Regions from separate parts of the Homo sapiens genome. Here region 2 is linked to region 1. A link means that fine-mapping ties the variant in region 1 to the expression of a gene that starts in the linked region. Tissue or cell type: aorta. Region 1 holds a variant in brackets; the other region holds the start of a gene. All regions are shown on one strand. Distances are between the middles of the regions.

The links. PIP is the estimated chance that this variant, and not a neighbour inherited with it, causes the effect.
Region 2: SNAP25 starts here. The variant in region 1 is fine-mapped to the expression of SNAP25 in aorta (GTEx, PIP above 0.99). The same link has a PIP of 0.9 or more in tibial artery.

Annotation. Positions count from the first base shown.
Region 1 is chr20:10,062,998-10,071,105 of GRCh38, reverse strand. The region is part of intron 3 of SNAP25-AS1 (SNAP25 antisense RNA 1); the gene reads left to right. Among named protein-coding and RNA genes, the nearest start is that of ANKEF1, 32 kb to the right of the region's middle. The variant T/A (reference allele first, on the strand shown) is at 3,790.
Region 2 is chr20:10,214,165-10,222,272 of GRCh38, reverse strand. It overlaps SNAP25 (synaptosome associated protein 25), which reads right to left and starts at 3,443. Exons shown (of 8, transcript NM_130811.4): 1 at 3,296-3,443. It overlaps SNAP25-AS1 (SNAP25 antisense RNA 1), which reads left to right and starts at 2,767. Exons shown (of 5, transcript NR_040710.1): 1 at 2,767-3,036. LOC124904959 (a long non-coding RNA gene) reads right to left here. Exons shown (of 2, transcript XR_007067723.1): 2 at 6,954-7,147.

The sequences.
Region 1 (8,108 bases):
TTCTAACGGTAACTTGAATCATTCAATTCTGGGCTTGAAAATTAAATCCTGAAAGCTACGCAAATGCTTGGGCAGAGAAATCCGGTAATGCTTACTTGAAATATAGAAACCTATATTTAGTACTTCATAGTGTGCCAGATAGTATAACAATTGCCTAGTGTCTATTATCCCATTAAGTTCTGATATGGTATGGATCTGTGTCCCCACCCAAATCTCATGTCAAATCATGCATGTCCCCACCCAAATCACCATGTCCCCAGTGTTGGAGAAGGGGCCTGGTGGGAGGTGAGTGGATCATGGGGACAAAGTTATCGTGAATGGTTTAGCATCGTCCGCTGCTTGATACTGTATAGTGAGTGAATTCTCATGAGAGCTGGTTGTTTAAAAGTGTGTGGCACCTCCCCACCCTCTCTCTTCTTCCTACTCTGGCCGTGAAGTGCCTCGCTGCCCCTTTGCCTTCTGCCATAATTGGAAGCTTTCTGAAGTCTCCCCTGAGCCAGAAGTTGCTATGCTTCCTGTATAGCCTGCAGAACTGTGAGCCAATTAAACCTCTTTTGTTTATAAATTACCCAGTCTCAGGTATTTTTAATAGCAGTGTAAGAATGGATGAATACAAGTTCTAATCACAAACCTATGAAGTAAGTCTGTTAGTGAGGCTGGTCAATAACCTAAAGTCCCAGTTGCTTATAACCCACCATGTCCATTGATGGGCAACTCTGCATCCTACTCCATATTTCCTAGGCTGACAGAGCGGCCGGCAGCAGAGGGGAGGATTGCTCAGAGAGCCTCACACTTGCAATCAAAAGCTCCAGCCTGGAAATGGCAAACCTCACTTCCATGCATAGCTCATTCGTCAGAACTAGTCACCTGACACCACCTAACTACAAGGGAATGGGGCAGAGAGTATAATCCTACCGTGTGTCCAAAGTGGAGAGAGCAGGAAATATTTGGTGAATAGTGCTAATCACTACTGTAGTGTGTCCCTATTTTATACATGAGAAAACAGAATCTGAGAGGTCAAACAACTTGCCAAGTCACAAAGCTAGTAAGCAGAAGAGCTAAGATGCTGTTAAAGAACAAAGCATGGATTTAACAAGTTTTTACAGCAAATTCTAAGCCTACTAATTCTGTGTCACTTAGAAAGACACAGGAAAATTAGAGATTGAACAGAGACTAGCAGATGTCTCTTGATCTCACATTTGTGAAATCTGAAATCCTTTGGCTATACTTCCAGCTGCCTACTTGAAAAGCTAGAGACTAAAAATATTGACTTTCTATTATCAGAGCTGAGTCCTTCATAAAATTGTTATGGCCCTAGGAGTTCTTGAGGATAATTTATGGATGATACAGAGCAATGTGACTTGTAATCACTTGGGAGATGCTATCAGCAATGTGAAAACCAATTGAACTTGGAAAGAAATCCACACTCCTTACTCTTCCCTGCGAGTTCCTCGATATCTGGCCCCGTCCTCTTCGTCAACCTTGTCCTAAGCTGGCTTCCCCTTGCTACCACCATCTTTGTGCAAGCTTTTCTGGTTTTCTTCCTGCTCTTCACCAAGCCAGGCTCTTTCTGGCCTCAGAGTTGTGGCAGGTATTTCCCCCTCATGTGTAGATTGCCTCCCCACGCCACTATAGAGTATCCCTTTTGAAAATTATGTGGAAATTTTTATATAATGTTTTATATTTAATTTTTGTGGATATATGGTAGTTGCATCATGGGGTACATGAGATGTTTAGATACAGGTATGCAATGTGTAATCACATCATGGAAAATGGGCTATCCATCACCCCAAGCGTCTGTCTTTTCTGGTATAAACAATCCAATTACAGTTATTTTTAAATTTACAATTAAATTACTATTGACTACAGTCACCCTATTGTGCTATCAAATACCAGGCCTTATTCATTCATTCTAATTATTGTTCGTACTCATTAACCTTTTCTACCCTGTCTCCCATTTCCCCACTACCCTTCCCAGCCTCTGGTAACCATCCTTCTACTCTCTATCTCCTTGGGTTCCATTGTTTTGATTTTTAGATCGTACAAATAGGTGACAACATGCAATGTTTGTCTTTTCTTGCCTGGCTTATTTCTCTTAATATAATGACCTCCAGTTCCACCCATGTTGCTGCAAATGACAGGGTCTCATTCTTTTTTATGGCTGAATAGTACTCCATTGTGTATAAGTACCACATTTTCTTTATCCATTCATCTCTTGATGGACACTTAGGTTGCTTCTGAATCTTGGCTATTGTGAACAGAGCTGCAACAAACATGGAAGTGCAGATATCCCTTCAATATATTGATTTCCTTTACTTTGGGTATATACCCAGCAGTGGGCTTGCTAGATCATATGGTAGCTATTTTTTTAGTTTCTTGAGGAACCTCCAAACTGTTCTCCATAGTTCATATTGAAATTTAACTGTCAATATAGTTCTATCAGGCAGTGGGGCTTTTAAGAGGTTAGTCATGAGGGCTCTGTCCTTATGAATGGGTTAATGCTGTTATCTTGGCAGTAGGCTAGTTATCTTGGGAGTTTGGCCTACTTTTTCTCTCTGTCTCACTTGCTTGTTTGCCCTTCCACCATGTTATGGTGCAACAAGAAGGCTCTCACCAGATGCAGCCCCTTGACCTTGGACTTCCCAGTCTCCAGAACTATGAACCAAATAAATGTCTATTGTTTATAAATTACACAGTTTGTGGTATTCTGTTATAGTAGCAGAAAACAGGCTAAAACACCTTTCCTCCCCTTAATCTGACAACTTCTACTCATTTTTTAGGTCTCATAGTAGACATTTCTTCAGAGAGGCACTCCCTGACTCTCAAACTAAAACTCCACCCAGTACTTTTCCATGGTAACATGCATCCCAATTTATAATAATATAGCTGTGTTTATTTAATTGCTATCTCCCTATTATGGTGGCAGGAACCAAGGGAGCAGTGAGTGCTGCGTGTAGCATTATACACCAGTGCCAAAGAGGCCAACTGGAAAATAGTAGATCCTTAGTATTTATTGAATGAAATGAATAAATGAATGACTTTTAGTCTTTAAGTAAGGATTTCAAGTGAGTTCCTAAAGTCTGAATTTGTGTTTCTCTTCTTTTAAGCTTTATCAATAATTCCATGTTAGTAATAATGAAGTGGAGACGGAAAAACCAGAAACAACCAGAAAAATTTAGATAAAAATGAAAACATTTATCCTCTCTTTTCTGGTTTTTGTTTTGTTTTCCAAAAGCCCAAAAAGAGTTAACATCTTTGGACTATTGATTTTTAGAATGAAGTATAAAGGATTTAAGAACATTTTGCTGCATTGGAGATGATTTTTACAAGTAGAAAGGATAATATAGAAAACCGCCAAGCGAATTACTGCACTTGAATCGATACATATGTTTTCTTTTTTCCTGTCAGACATTTCTTACCAAACGGTTTAAATAATATCATCTGTTCTTGTTTTTTGTGCATTCCTACTCACACATATCAAATGAAGAAAAGCCAAAGGCTTTATGAAGCACTGGAAAGAATTTTGTTGCCAACCAGTTCATGCTACTGCAATTCTGTGGGTCCATGACACAGAGGAAAATATAAGGCTATGTACTGATTTACATCACAGAACACATGGTACATCCAGGAATGAGCACCACAAGGGTAATTTTAATGCTGCAGAACACATTTATCTGCTGATATATGGTCTAGGAATACGCTGCTTTTATTCTGCCAATTCTGACTCCCACTATTCCCTCTAAAAATGGAAAAAACTCTTGCAAGGTCATTTGGAAAGAATGTTTAAAA[T/A]TACTTTTTCTTTGCTTATTTGCAATCCCTTCACTTCTTAAGAATGATTGGCAGTGTTTATGTATCCTGAAGCCTGGGGCAGAGTTAAGATTCAAACAGGAGACTAATGGAGTAAAGGAGTCCCTCTCCTAGTGGGCAGAAATTATAAGCAGCCATTTAGGTTACTTATACACCTGGGATAGCTACAAACAGCTATGTTCCCAGTGGCAAAAGGAAAGGCTAATACAGTCCAGCAGAAAAAAAATAGAAACCATTCTAAAGAACAGAGGCAGGAACTCAGGAGTACAATAGTCAGGGATGAATTAGTATAAGATAAACTCTCCACATAAAGAGGCACTGAGAAAGTACATACGTGATTTTCAGTTGTGCACAAATTTTAAAATAATTCAAGTTTATATTATGTTATAATCCCATCAATGTGGCCAGAAAATATGTGGTATATTTTGGAATGTTCAGTCATGACAGTTATGGTGTCAAATAATTAAATATTATTCAAATAATTGCACAGGTGAAGATATAGTTGCAACTGCGGTAAGTGCCGTGAAGGAAGGTGCATTGTGATCTATGAATGTATATAGGAAGAGAATTTAACTTCGTGAGGAAGGTGAGGAAGTCTGCCCTAACAAAGAGATGATTTCTCTGAGATGAAAAAGGAATGGAAAATTAAGCAGATGAGGTATTGGGGAAGAGGAGGGAGAATGAATTCCTGGACAAGGAGGATACAGTTTATGCAAAAACTTAATGGAAGGTGGGAGCATGTACATAAAATAAAATAACAGACTGTCTACAGCAGAGTGTTTAAAGGCCTGATCTGGGGGAGGAGTAAGTATGCTCAGACCGCTCAGGTGATCATAGGCCATGTTCACATACATTTTCTTATATTATTAAGAAAATCAGTAATTTTGAAAGTATTTTAATTAGATGGTAGGTAGAGTACTGAAGTAATCACTTTTCATCCTTGAAAAGACTTGTCTGGCATCAATGTATAGATAGACTGCAGGACAGAAGGAGATAAAAGAACAGATCAGAATATTTCTTACAGTTTTCTGGGTAAGATGATAAGGTAGACTACGGCGGTAAGGGTGGAGATAGTAGGAGGAAGAGTCACAAGAATTTATGAGATTAAATGGAGTTGAATTGGGGTGGGTGGGTGCTTGGGGAAGCAAGTCATGATGATATCTGGGAGTTTGGCTTTCATAGCAGAATGTTGGTGGTTCCATTACTGAACTAGAAAACACTCGAAGTAAACTAGACTTAAGGATGGGCAGTAGAGGTCTAAAGTTTGATTTGGGAATTGTTGAGTTTCAGGAGCGTTTGTAAATTCAAGAACTGATGTCAAGTATAATTAGATATGTTTCTGTAGGCTTAGATGAAATAACTACGCTTAAGACACAAATGTGGGAGTCATTCCAAGGAGAGAGTGCAAATGAGCTTGCCTAGGGAGAGCTCGTAGTGTGAGATGAAGGTTTGAAACTGAGTCTTGAGAAATTCCGACATTTAATGGTCAGGCGGAGGTTGTAGTAGCCACTTTTTTGGTTTGTTTTCTTCTCCATCTTTCTCTTCTTTCTTTATTCCTTTCTTTTCTTCCCCTCTCTTTTTTCTTCTTTTTCTTTCTTCCTTCCTGTCTCCTTTTTCCTTCCTCCCTTCATTTTTCTTCCTTCCTTCCTTTCTTTCTCTCTCTTTCTCTTTCTCTTTCTCTCTTTCCTTCTCTTTCTTTCTCTTTCCTTCTCTTTCTCTTTCTCTCTTTCCTCTTTCTTTCTCTTTCTCTTTCTTTCTCTTTCTTTCTTTCTTTTTTTTCTTTCCTTTTCCCCTTCCTCTTCCCTTCCCTTTTCTTTCTGCCTTTCCAGCATCCCTAACTCTTTTTTTGGGGAAGAATAATCCCTACTTTTTCTTGGGAGCCCACACCTATACAAGTAGCAGTCTGGTGTTTTGGGTAGAGTGACTCATTCCCTGAGTCATGGGCTGACAAAATGATCTGGCCAATCAGAATCTTGTGTCCTGTTGTATAATGACTGGTGTGGAGAAAGACCCTTGACTCAAGCCTGACCATTGAGAGTGCGATCAGGGTTTTCACAGGACCAGCTGGGAAAGAGTACCTCATTTCACTTGGAGTTCTAGGATGTAACCCTGGAGCTTCTGGTGGACATCTTTGCTACATTCTAGCTAAGGTTGGAGCTCACACAGACTAAAGCCAAGTAGAGAGAGCAAGGGAGCCAGACAGTGAGAATGTCAGCAAGCAAGGAAGAGAGAAATGGTTTTCAGGGAAGATGTTTTGCCTCCAGTCTTGCTCAATCCACCCCTTGAAATTCTGTATTAAGAATTCTCTTTTTCTAAGTCTTAATAATTCTCTTGTTATTGTCTGCTGGTGTTGAGAGTCCTGATGCAAAAAGCATGGCTACAAAGGATATTGAGAAGCACCAGGAAACTGTGGTGTTGCTAAAGTCAAGAAAATTTCTAGGACAAGGGACGAATCAGCAGAATCAAATGGAAATCCATCACTTTCCAAATCCATATGGTTGTCTTACAAATCTCTCCAGGATGTGGCTTTGGCCTCTTTTCCCTGACCATTTTTTATTTATTTCTTGTCACATTGCTTTTATTTCACTTGCTGGAATGGGTCTGCACTGCAAAATGCTGCTGCTTCTACTCAATTCCTCTCTTCCCTCTGGGTCAACTTAATTCCTCACTCATTCTTTAGAGTTCAGCTAAAATACCATTTCATTAGTGAAAATTTCCCCTATTCTGTAGCACCACTATAAGTTCATATGTTGTATAAGGTAGCGTTACCTTGCAGCTATCCTGGGGTAGCCCTCTGTTTGTCTCCTGGGATGCTTGAAGTCTGGTCAAGGTAAGAATGAAATGTGCTACTGAGGACTTTATAATGTGCAATGTGCTATTTAAAGCTCGAAATTCCCCTGGAGGCAGCCTGTATTAGCTTGTCTACATTGTTTAGGACTGTATAGACTGATAGTTTGTACCTGGTCTAACAGGGTATACAGCCTGGGTTTAGCTACATGGCTGGTGGGTATGAAAGACCCCTCAATAAATTATATACCTGGACTCACACTTACGGTGATCGTATATAATCTGAAGATAAAATGTGTCCTGTACCGAGTGATTAAAATGGACCCTGGGGGGCTGTGCCTGGAAGCCCTAGACCCCTCTGTGATCATCTGTGCTCTGTGTCCTAATGTATCCTTCACCTGTATTAAAACCTTACTCAAATACACACTGTGAAATCTTGTGAGTCTTTTGATAATCTTCAATTATTCAATCTTGTGCAATCATCTCATAAGTATTTTAGGATTATTCTATGAAAATATGCTTTTCCTACGAAACTATAAACTCCATGAGGGCAGGGGCTATTCCTGGTTTTGCATTCCATTTTATCCAGACATGCCATTGTGCTTGATACGTGATTAATCAGGATCCACATGGGAAAGCAGAAACAACTCTGAGTTCCTACAGAATGGAAGTTAATGGGAGGATTTGGTTGCACAAGCAATAGAAGAGGCTGAGGAAACAACCAGAGCACAGTGAGGCAGCCCTGAGACTAACAACAAAAGAAGCTGGTACCACCCTTGGAGGCTTAAGGGACAGAGGGAGTGGGTAGTACTACCAGAGCCTAGGGGCCAGGGTCACATGAGGGAGGCTAGGACCACAGCAGGATACACAGCTCCCCACACAGTGGGGAGTGGAGTCATGGGGGAGACAGACACAGCTGTTGACGGGGATGCCGACAAAGGCAAAGATGGAAAGGGGGAACTACCTGGCTTTTCCTCTCCTCCCTCTCTCATCTTTTGTTGTCTCCTGTTGTCTGGATCCTACTGGAAGCCAAATAATGCAGAAACCTGGGACATGCAAACTGGATGAATTGCTCTCCTGTCATGCACCATGAAGAGAGCAAGGAACAGACCTAGGATTTTCATTATCGGTGCTCAATAAATATATGCTGAATGAATAAAACCAAATTGTATGTAGAACAAGGGCTGCTGATAGATTCAGCATTCTGGCAGTAGCAACCTTGGACATCATGAAAAGTCTCAATCTCTAACTGAGACGCATGTGTTATATGGACCAGAGGTCTGCAGAGTCTGAACACACAAGGTCTGCCTAGGTACTCTCATTCCATGATTTTCTATTGCTGATCAATTCTCCTTCTGGCTGACTTGTTAGCTTTGGGAAGTGTTGGGAAGTGTTGCTTTAGTGTGAGATATATTCAGACATCAATAATACTCATTGCTCATTTAATTCTTTATGTGTTAATTTCATTATTTAATTTTTATGAGGGAATACTTATTTCTCTCACTTATTTTTCT
Region 2 (8,108 bases), 150 kb before region 1:
AAAATTTGTCTTCTAATGTTTTATTGCATTTAATTCTGGTTTTATTTATTAACTTATTGTTTATTGCTTTTATTAAGATTGCTAGATGCTAAACTTATTGAGGTCAAGACAAAACCATGAAATTTTATAACTCCCATGGGATTCATTTCTGTATCCGGTGAATACCGATTGATCAGTATCTTCCTATCAGGTTGGTACTTGCTGACAAGGGATGACATTGCAGAAAGTATCCAGCGCTGAGGCTTAAAACACAGATTTTTCCTTCTTTTATAGAATTGTAAAGCAGTCCCATAATGTGAGAAACATTGTTTATTCATAGTGAATTATCTAAAAAGCATATTTTCTATTTTTCTCCTTCATGTCTCCTCTCTCAACCTCTTTCTCAGATTATTTTTCTCGTTTCTACTAATCGTCAAAACCTACGTGTTATGCTGAAGGCTGACTGCTTACGCAGCTTCTAGGTGTCACTGGCAGAAACATGTCTTTCAGCTGATAACCCTCACTCAAGGGTTAACATTTAGAGCTTGGGAATATCTTTAGACAAGCTAATTAACGGGTAGTTTGCATTGTGTTTGTGCATGTGTGGTTGTGCGTGTTTAACAAAGTAAAAATAAAATTGTGAATTCTTGGGAGATTTTGCCATGAAGAGGTTAAGAGGATTGTAAATTGTTCTGTAATTTGAACACTGAGGTGGTAATGCAGTAAATGCCGATGAACAAACAGGCATCAGAGGGTCTGTGTGAATGACTCCTGGCTCATCCTATGTCCATCTGCTCCTGCCTCTTCTCACCGCATTGCCCTGGATTTTAAAAATTCTAACTTAAAATGGGAAATTTCTCGATTTTTTTTCCCTGGAAGCTTGTCAATGATATAAATGTTAAATTCATGGTTCAATGATATATTTTTTAAATTTCTCAGTAAGCTATTCTAAAATTAGCTTTCTAATTGTGCACATTGCTTCTTCCTCTCAGCTCTGTGCCCTTTGCCATCTTCACTGCGGTCCTCTACTTCCCCCGCTCCTCCCCAGTCTTCCACTAGCAAACAAACCCAGCAGTAATTACTAATGTCCAAGCACGTAATTCCGGCAGCATTAGGCTTTTCATTTGACGCAACTACGCAGACAGCTGTCTGGACATGCAGCATGAAGTTAAAGCATTTTTAAAGATTCCTGCCCATATTTTCTCTCCTCCACTACTAAAACACAGTTGTTTATTTTTGTCTGCAGATTGCAAAGTTATAAACTTCTTTTATACGTTTACATACTCATATATAAATGTCCACCCAAATAATTTTACATCCATGCAAAATAACAGATCAACATATACATACATGGAAACACATGGTCATCTATAAAAAGAAAAAACACTAGGAAATAATTAAATAGCAGCGAATGAAATTACCTTCTGTATATGGACAGGGAATTTTAGTGTCTGTAGCATACAGATGATAGGAGGTATGACTATCTAAACACAATCCAAGTTCTCATTTGGGGTCTTTTAAGGGGATCATGATAGCGTTTCTTTAATGCATTGTATAGATTATTACATATGACGCTGTTACTCTTTTTTGCTAATGACTCAAATGGCATAATTTTGACTCTGGTCATTTTTATGCCAGTTTTATCTACATCAAACAGAGAGAAATACCCCTGATGACTTTTGCTCTCTCAGATGCTCCAAGCCTCAGAGTAGAAAATGGTTAAAGTAGTTATTACCACCTCAGCAAAATCCCGCAGTGCCATAAGAGAAATTGCAGTAGACCTTTAGGTCAGAGTTAAGTTCTAGTTTAACACCATGGTTCTTTACCTGCATTACCCTGAAGGACACACTTGGATTCTCCTGAGGAAGGCCAGTCTTAATATTGTCAAAATCTAAAGCTATCAGCCTGCGATAACCAGTGCTGATAGCAAATACTTCCAGTAACTCTGAAACCGTGGCCAAAGAGGTTAAATCTATTCAGTACAGGACCAGTAAAATTTCTCAGATATGTGTTTTTGTGGATGAATGCTTGTATTCATGCCTGATTGCAAGGATGGGGGAAGAAGGAAAAGGAAGAGTGATTCATTCTTAAAGTTGATTCTGCTTAGTTCAGCTAATCTCACATTTTTATCAAATGGAAACATAGAGAGAGATGTATCATCCCTATAAACAGATAGCATTGGCTTCTTCATATATACAGTACTTATGCTCACCCAAGATCTGTAGACAGATCTACTCTGTGTTAAAAAACAAAACCAAACAAAAACCTTGATACCCTGCTGGAGGATAAATCCATATTTTTTAAAAAATGTATTTATTTTCTACGTAAAATAAGGGTCAGAGGGCAACACAGAAGATTTCCACAAGTAGACTATTTTGTTGAAGCTATGCAGGAGGTGAGGAGGGGAACAGGAAATTGTCTGCAAAGGAGTCTCTGTGAGGAAGATTTATTTCTTTCTTGTTTTCTTTTAAGCTACTATGACTCCTCTATTAAGGGTCTCCGTAAGACCGGGGTCTCAGGGAGACAATTTGGTCTCCAGCCCTGGCACATCCAGCCCCGGCCAGGCATTTCTGCCGCAGGCAGATGAGGCGCTGCGGCCGGACCGCTGTCCCCGGTGCTGAAAGGTCGAGGGCGCCCGCGCGAGCCCTCGGTGTTGCTATCCAGGGTGCTGAGCGCGGGCCGCCGCAGTCCCCGAAGCCAGCCCACCCGCGCCAGCCCTCCGCAGAGCCCTCCCACCCGGCACGACCCGCCCGCCTCCCGCCAGCCTGCAGTTGACGTGGAGCAGGCGGCATAAATCAAGTCCGCGGGGCATGGAGGCTGCTGTCGCTGCAGCAGCTCAGCTTGCCCGGGGCGGGAACTCCCCCTTTCTCCTTTCGCCTCCCCAGCACCCACACCCTGTCTCCCCCTTAATTCTTCCCTGGATAATAGCACCCTAACGACAACAGTCATAATAATAGGGTTAGAACGACAGGGGAGGAAAACTCAACAGCCTAAATATCTCTGAAAACTGCATCGCAAAATGGAAGAAAGAGGGGGTCCCACTACTGTTTCAAAAGAGTAAGTTATTATTCGGTACGTACCCTCGCTCTTCCTCCCCGTCGCTCCATTTGCAGGGCTCCCGTTTCCCTTTTCCCCAGCAGCTCACCTCGAAAACACTTTATAAAGCCCCCACCAGACGTGCACACACGGAATACCGCACCCTAAGTGCACCAATACTTGTATTTACCCAAGCCCACTCGGACTGCCCAGCTGCTGTCCCTTCTGGGTATGCAGCCATCCCGAGCCAGAGCCACGACCTGGGGAGGGGGGTTCTTACCTGGGCTTCTCGGGAGGGTTGTGTTCTCCGGGCCTCTGCAGGTTGCAACTGTGGTGGAGCCGCCGAGCAGGGAGGGAAGGAAAGACAGCGCCTGACCTCCCCGAGGTTTCGTCTTCAATGCAACGTGAGCTCTGCCCTCATCAAAGATGGCCGTCCGTTTTGACGTCAGCAGCTTTTAATAGCCGCCCAGCGAGGGGCGGGAGGAAGTGGGGGCGGGGCACGGCGGGGGCGGGGGCGGGGCCCGGGCTGCGGCGCGCTTGACTCGGTTCCCAGTGCGCTGGCCTGCAAACCTGCGTGTTTTCACCTTCTATAAACACCCGCACGGGGCGACTCTTATGACTCCATTTTAACACTCGGTCTTGGGCAAACGCGTTCATCCCGCAACTGCATTCCTGATGTTCTTTGGTGTGTGTGCGTGTGTGTGTACATATGTGTATATGTGTGTGTATGTATATATGTATGTGTGTGTATATTTTATAATACATGTATAATATATGTATAATTTGTGTGTATGTGTATATATTCCCCCCCACCCCCACCCCCACCCCCTTTCAGTGGAATCTGTGGTTGAGTCATCTAAGGAGAGGGGAAGGCAGAGGAGGGGTAAAAGGTAGTGATGGGAGGGGTGGGGGAAATTTCAGCGGCGATTTGTTTTCTCCGAAGAGGGTCCGTAGGGGCATCCCCGTCCACCCTCGCCAGCTCCATATATGGCCAGGCTACGTGGGTTGCTATTTTTATGAGTGATTGCTTCATGTTATCGAAGCAGCGTCGAGGGCTTGTGGCTCTCGTTGCTGTGGTCAGCCGGGCAGCGAGGCTGGCGCACGTTATTTTGAACTACGTCAGAGCCAGGCTCTCTGAGCTGTTGCAGGAGTCGGGGGAAGGAGAAGGGAAGCGGAGTTAGCCCAGCCAGCGTGGGTTTGCAAGGACTCGAGGCTTGAAGTTGAGTTGTTTGCCGAGGGCAAAAACGGATGACTCTGCTTTCGGTGGAATTTGCAGTCGGTGCTGGGGTTTCATGCTGGGTGTCTTAGGGGTACCCCACGGAGGCACAGACGCCCCGAGGGAACCGTCCAAACGGCCGGGAGGAGGTGGGGGATTCAGAGCAAGGACGGCTGGGACACGGCCGAATCTGGGGGTTCACTCAGTGCGCAAACCCCGGGGTACCCGTGCAGGCTGCCTCGGGGGGCCCTCGGATGCTCAAATCAGGGCGGGGAGACAAAGGCTACTTGTGCTGGTCGTATTAGAGATTAAAAGTGATAATTATAAAGCAACAACCCTAACTGTCCTCCCTGGCCGTGCCCGGGCCCGGGAAGGGGGTGGTGCGCGGATCGCTCGGCGGTGGCAGCCTCCCGGATGATTCACAGGTGTTGGGGAGGCTGTCGCGGGGCTCTCCGCAGGGAGGGAGGGCTGGGGAGCGCGTGGGAGGTGGGGGACCTCGTCTGAGGAACTGTTTGTACTTTTCCGGGAAGGATGCGATTAGAAGTCGTGCCTCGCAATGTTAAAACTTGATGGCCTCTTTTAGGCTATGGAAAATCCTTGTCTCGCTTAGGAGAAACCATTTAGAGCTGGGTTCGGAAAAGCGGCGTACAACCTCTCCCCTTGCACCCTCGCCCCCCACCCCCGCCCCACCACACACACACACACACACACACACACACACACACACACATCCCTAGCTGGCCTGAGAGCCAAGCTTAGGCAATAATACGGCCTTTGATTGCGCTCCATTGCGGAGGGAGGGAAGCGGGGTAGGGGGAAGGGAAGAAGAGTTGTGAAGGCGCTGCGTTTAGAAAGAGACGGGTTGTTAAGAATTTAATAAAGGATACCTTTAATCGAAATTAGTAGACATAATTGTTTCTTAAAGATTCCCTGGCCTGAAGGCTTTTTTTTGACGTATTGATGTTTTTGCCATAATAATTAACAGTGTTTGGATGTTAATTAAAGCCAAATTCCTAAAAAAGGCATGTTGCTGAAATTTGTTTACTTAAATATTCATTAAACATTTAAGATTGCCATACAATAAAGAAGAAAATCTGCAAAGTCCTTAGATACTTAATTGCCAATAAAAGTCTCTTGAGTATGGCTCTTACTTTCATTATAAAGCAAGTTGGAATAGGGGGAAAGGGGTTTGAATGCAATGTACTGCAAAATCCTTTGTAGTCAGAATTTTTTCCAAAGTGTGACACTTTAAAAAAAGGCAGCATGCGGAAGTTTGAAGAGAAAAAAAAACCTGCAGAGGGAGAAAAAAAAATGTGTGTATGGCCCTCAGACTAGAAATCATTCAGGCAGAAAGTTTTGTGAAGGAATGGAGGAGGTGGGGGATTTTCCAAGTTAAAAAAAAAAAAGAAGTTAAAAAGCAACTACGTCAGTGATGGAGGCTTATCCTGCAGGCAAAAGCTATGTAGCAGTCACAGGGAAGGACTGGCTTGGTATTCTGAGTTTTCAACTGCTGATGCCCCACACTGACATCTATAAAAATGACAGACAAGAAGAGAGAGGCAGACTGTTTCAAGGCATTACAGAAAATACCATGGACCCTACAAGATTAGCTGGTGGTGGTGACAATGTTTTCCATTGCTAGTGCTTGTTGTGAAAATGATGCTGTTTGAGAGGTTCTTAGAGGTTCTTCATCTTGCTCTGGGAAAGGTAACAGAGTGTAATTTGAGATACATAAACATTGGGTACATAAAAATCTGCTAGGGATGACCAGATAACCCTAAATGTATTTTGAATAGGATAATGAGATTTTTTTCCCTTAGGATTTTCTCACGGCATGATTAAAGCAAAACAAAAACAAACAAGAAAACGTCATCATCTTTGCCAGTAGAGAACCAGCAGATTCATGATACTCAGGGTTTGCAAAGGCCTGAACCACACAGGGAAGGAAGGTGATGGAAAATTTGTTCCAAAATGGTTCAGCTGCTATGGGTTATTTCTGCAAAGAACTAACACACAGAGTATCTAATGCTTAGGATGAGTAACGAGAAAATTACCTGCTCTGCTAGATGGATATTTACACTGTGATAATTCAAGCCTCTGAAAGCTTTTTTGGTACATTATGCCCCAAAGTATTCTGGTTTGCAGTAGCTCTAGGTCCAAGGTATTTAGCTTGTATCTCCAAGGTAAGGTGCAAGATTCATAGTTGACTCAATAACTACAATTTTATAAGTCATAATAATAATAACTTTTCTAAAATCCCATGTGATCTTTCCAAAGTCAACTTGGAAGCAGTTTAGAGATAGCCCAGCTCAGAAGCCCTCTCTCCAGGGTCCTCCTTTGGGACATGCCTGGCACCCTATGACAATGTTTCAAAACACTGTGAGGGCAAAGAATATTCAGTTCTGCGCAAGAATATTCAGTTTGATAGAGCAACTGTTTTGATTCCTTGGTTTGCTTTCCAAGTGGTTTGCTTGCCACTTTCTCTTCATATATTCTTCTAGCCCTTAATCCAGCCCCCCACCCCATTTATATATAGTGAAGTAGCGGTACCTTAAAATGCCTCGAGTAGTTTAACTCTAGGTTTAAACTATCCAGGCTGTTCTTGTTCCCTGAAGCCTCTAAGGTAGATATAGATCTTGTGAAAGGTAAAAAGAGAACCAGGAATATTAGTTGCTGTTTCTGGTTTGCCAGGTTAAGAAAAAATAGGACTGTACACTCAGAATATTAAATAACACTTTATTCTTTATTACAGACAGTATGGTGAGAAGGAAGAAGGGGAGTGTCCAGCAGCCACAGGCTGGATGTTTCCACACTTTTGTTCCTTGATGCACCAAAATTACAGACTTTCTTTTACAATGCATCCTAGGACCCTTCCCAATGCTGAGACACGCCTGTGGTCCAGTAGGGAGGAAGAACCTGTGACAATTAGGAACAGAGAGGCAGAGAAAATGGTAGTCCAAATTAGTACACTTCAAAAAGGCTATTTGTTAGGGATCACAGTATTCCTTGAGTAAATCTTTTAGGAATCATATTAGTTCTGTAACCTCTTTGTATCTCAATTATCTCATAGGTAAAATGGAGACAATAATTATAGCAAATACACAAGGAAATTATGAAGCACTGAGTGTCATGTCTAGCACTATGAAGTATTGGCTAAATAAAATCTATCATTTTGATGAGACTTTAACTTTATTTCTCTAAGAAATGACATGTAGCTTGGCTTTAATATGGAGGATTGCCATTTTTTTCATTAGCTATTAATTAGATATGTATCAATCATACTGGGCCTTGTTTTTTTCATCTATATGAACTTATTCATTTACTCAATATCGAACACCTGCCATATGCTTAGCACTGGGGTCTAGGAAAAATTGAGTAGAGAGTTGAGGGTTAGAGCGGTTAAATAACCAGGCCAAGGACACAGCTAAGAAATGGGATAGCTGGGGTTTGAACCCCAGGGCCCAAGCTCATAATCACTATGTTTTAGTACAGCCTCCTCCAGCTCCATCAGACTCCTTTCTGCCCTCTGCAGCTACCTTCTCTGCCTCAACACACTGTGGCTTGCATATGCCTTTTCTCATTAGCAACTTCAGGGTTTCGTTTGCTAGAGGGATGAGTATGAATTACTGGTTTGGTTGGCTGAATCACAAGGTTTCGCTGTGGCGAATTTCAAGAAAGAAGTCTAGGCTGTTAACCTGAGGTGAACAGAAACAACATATTCAAAGGAAGAGAGTTCAAATTACAATCAAGGAGGGAATTCAGAGATCAATATCCAATAAACAGCTTAAATAAGAATCAGGGCAGAAAATGCTCTCAAAATATACCTAAGCAAGTCAGCCAGAGGTCAGAACAGAATGGCAATGTGGATCAGTGGTTT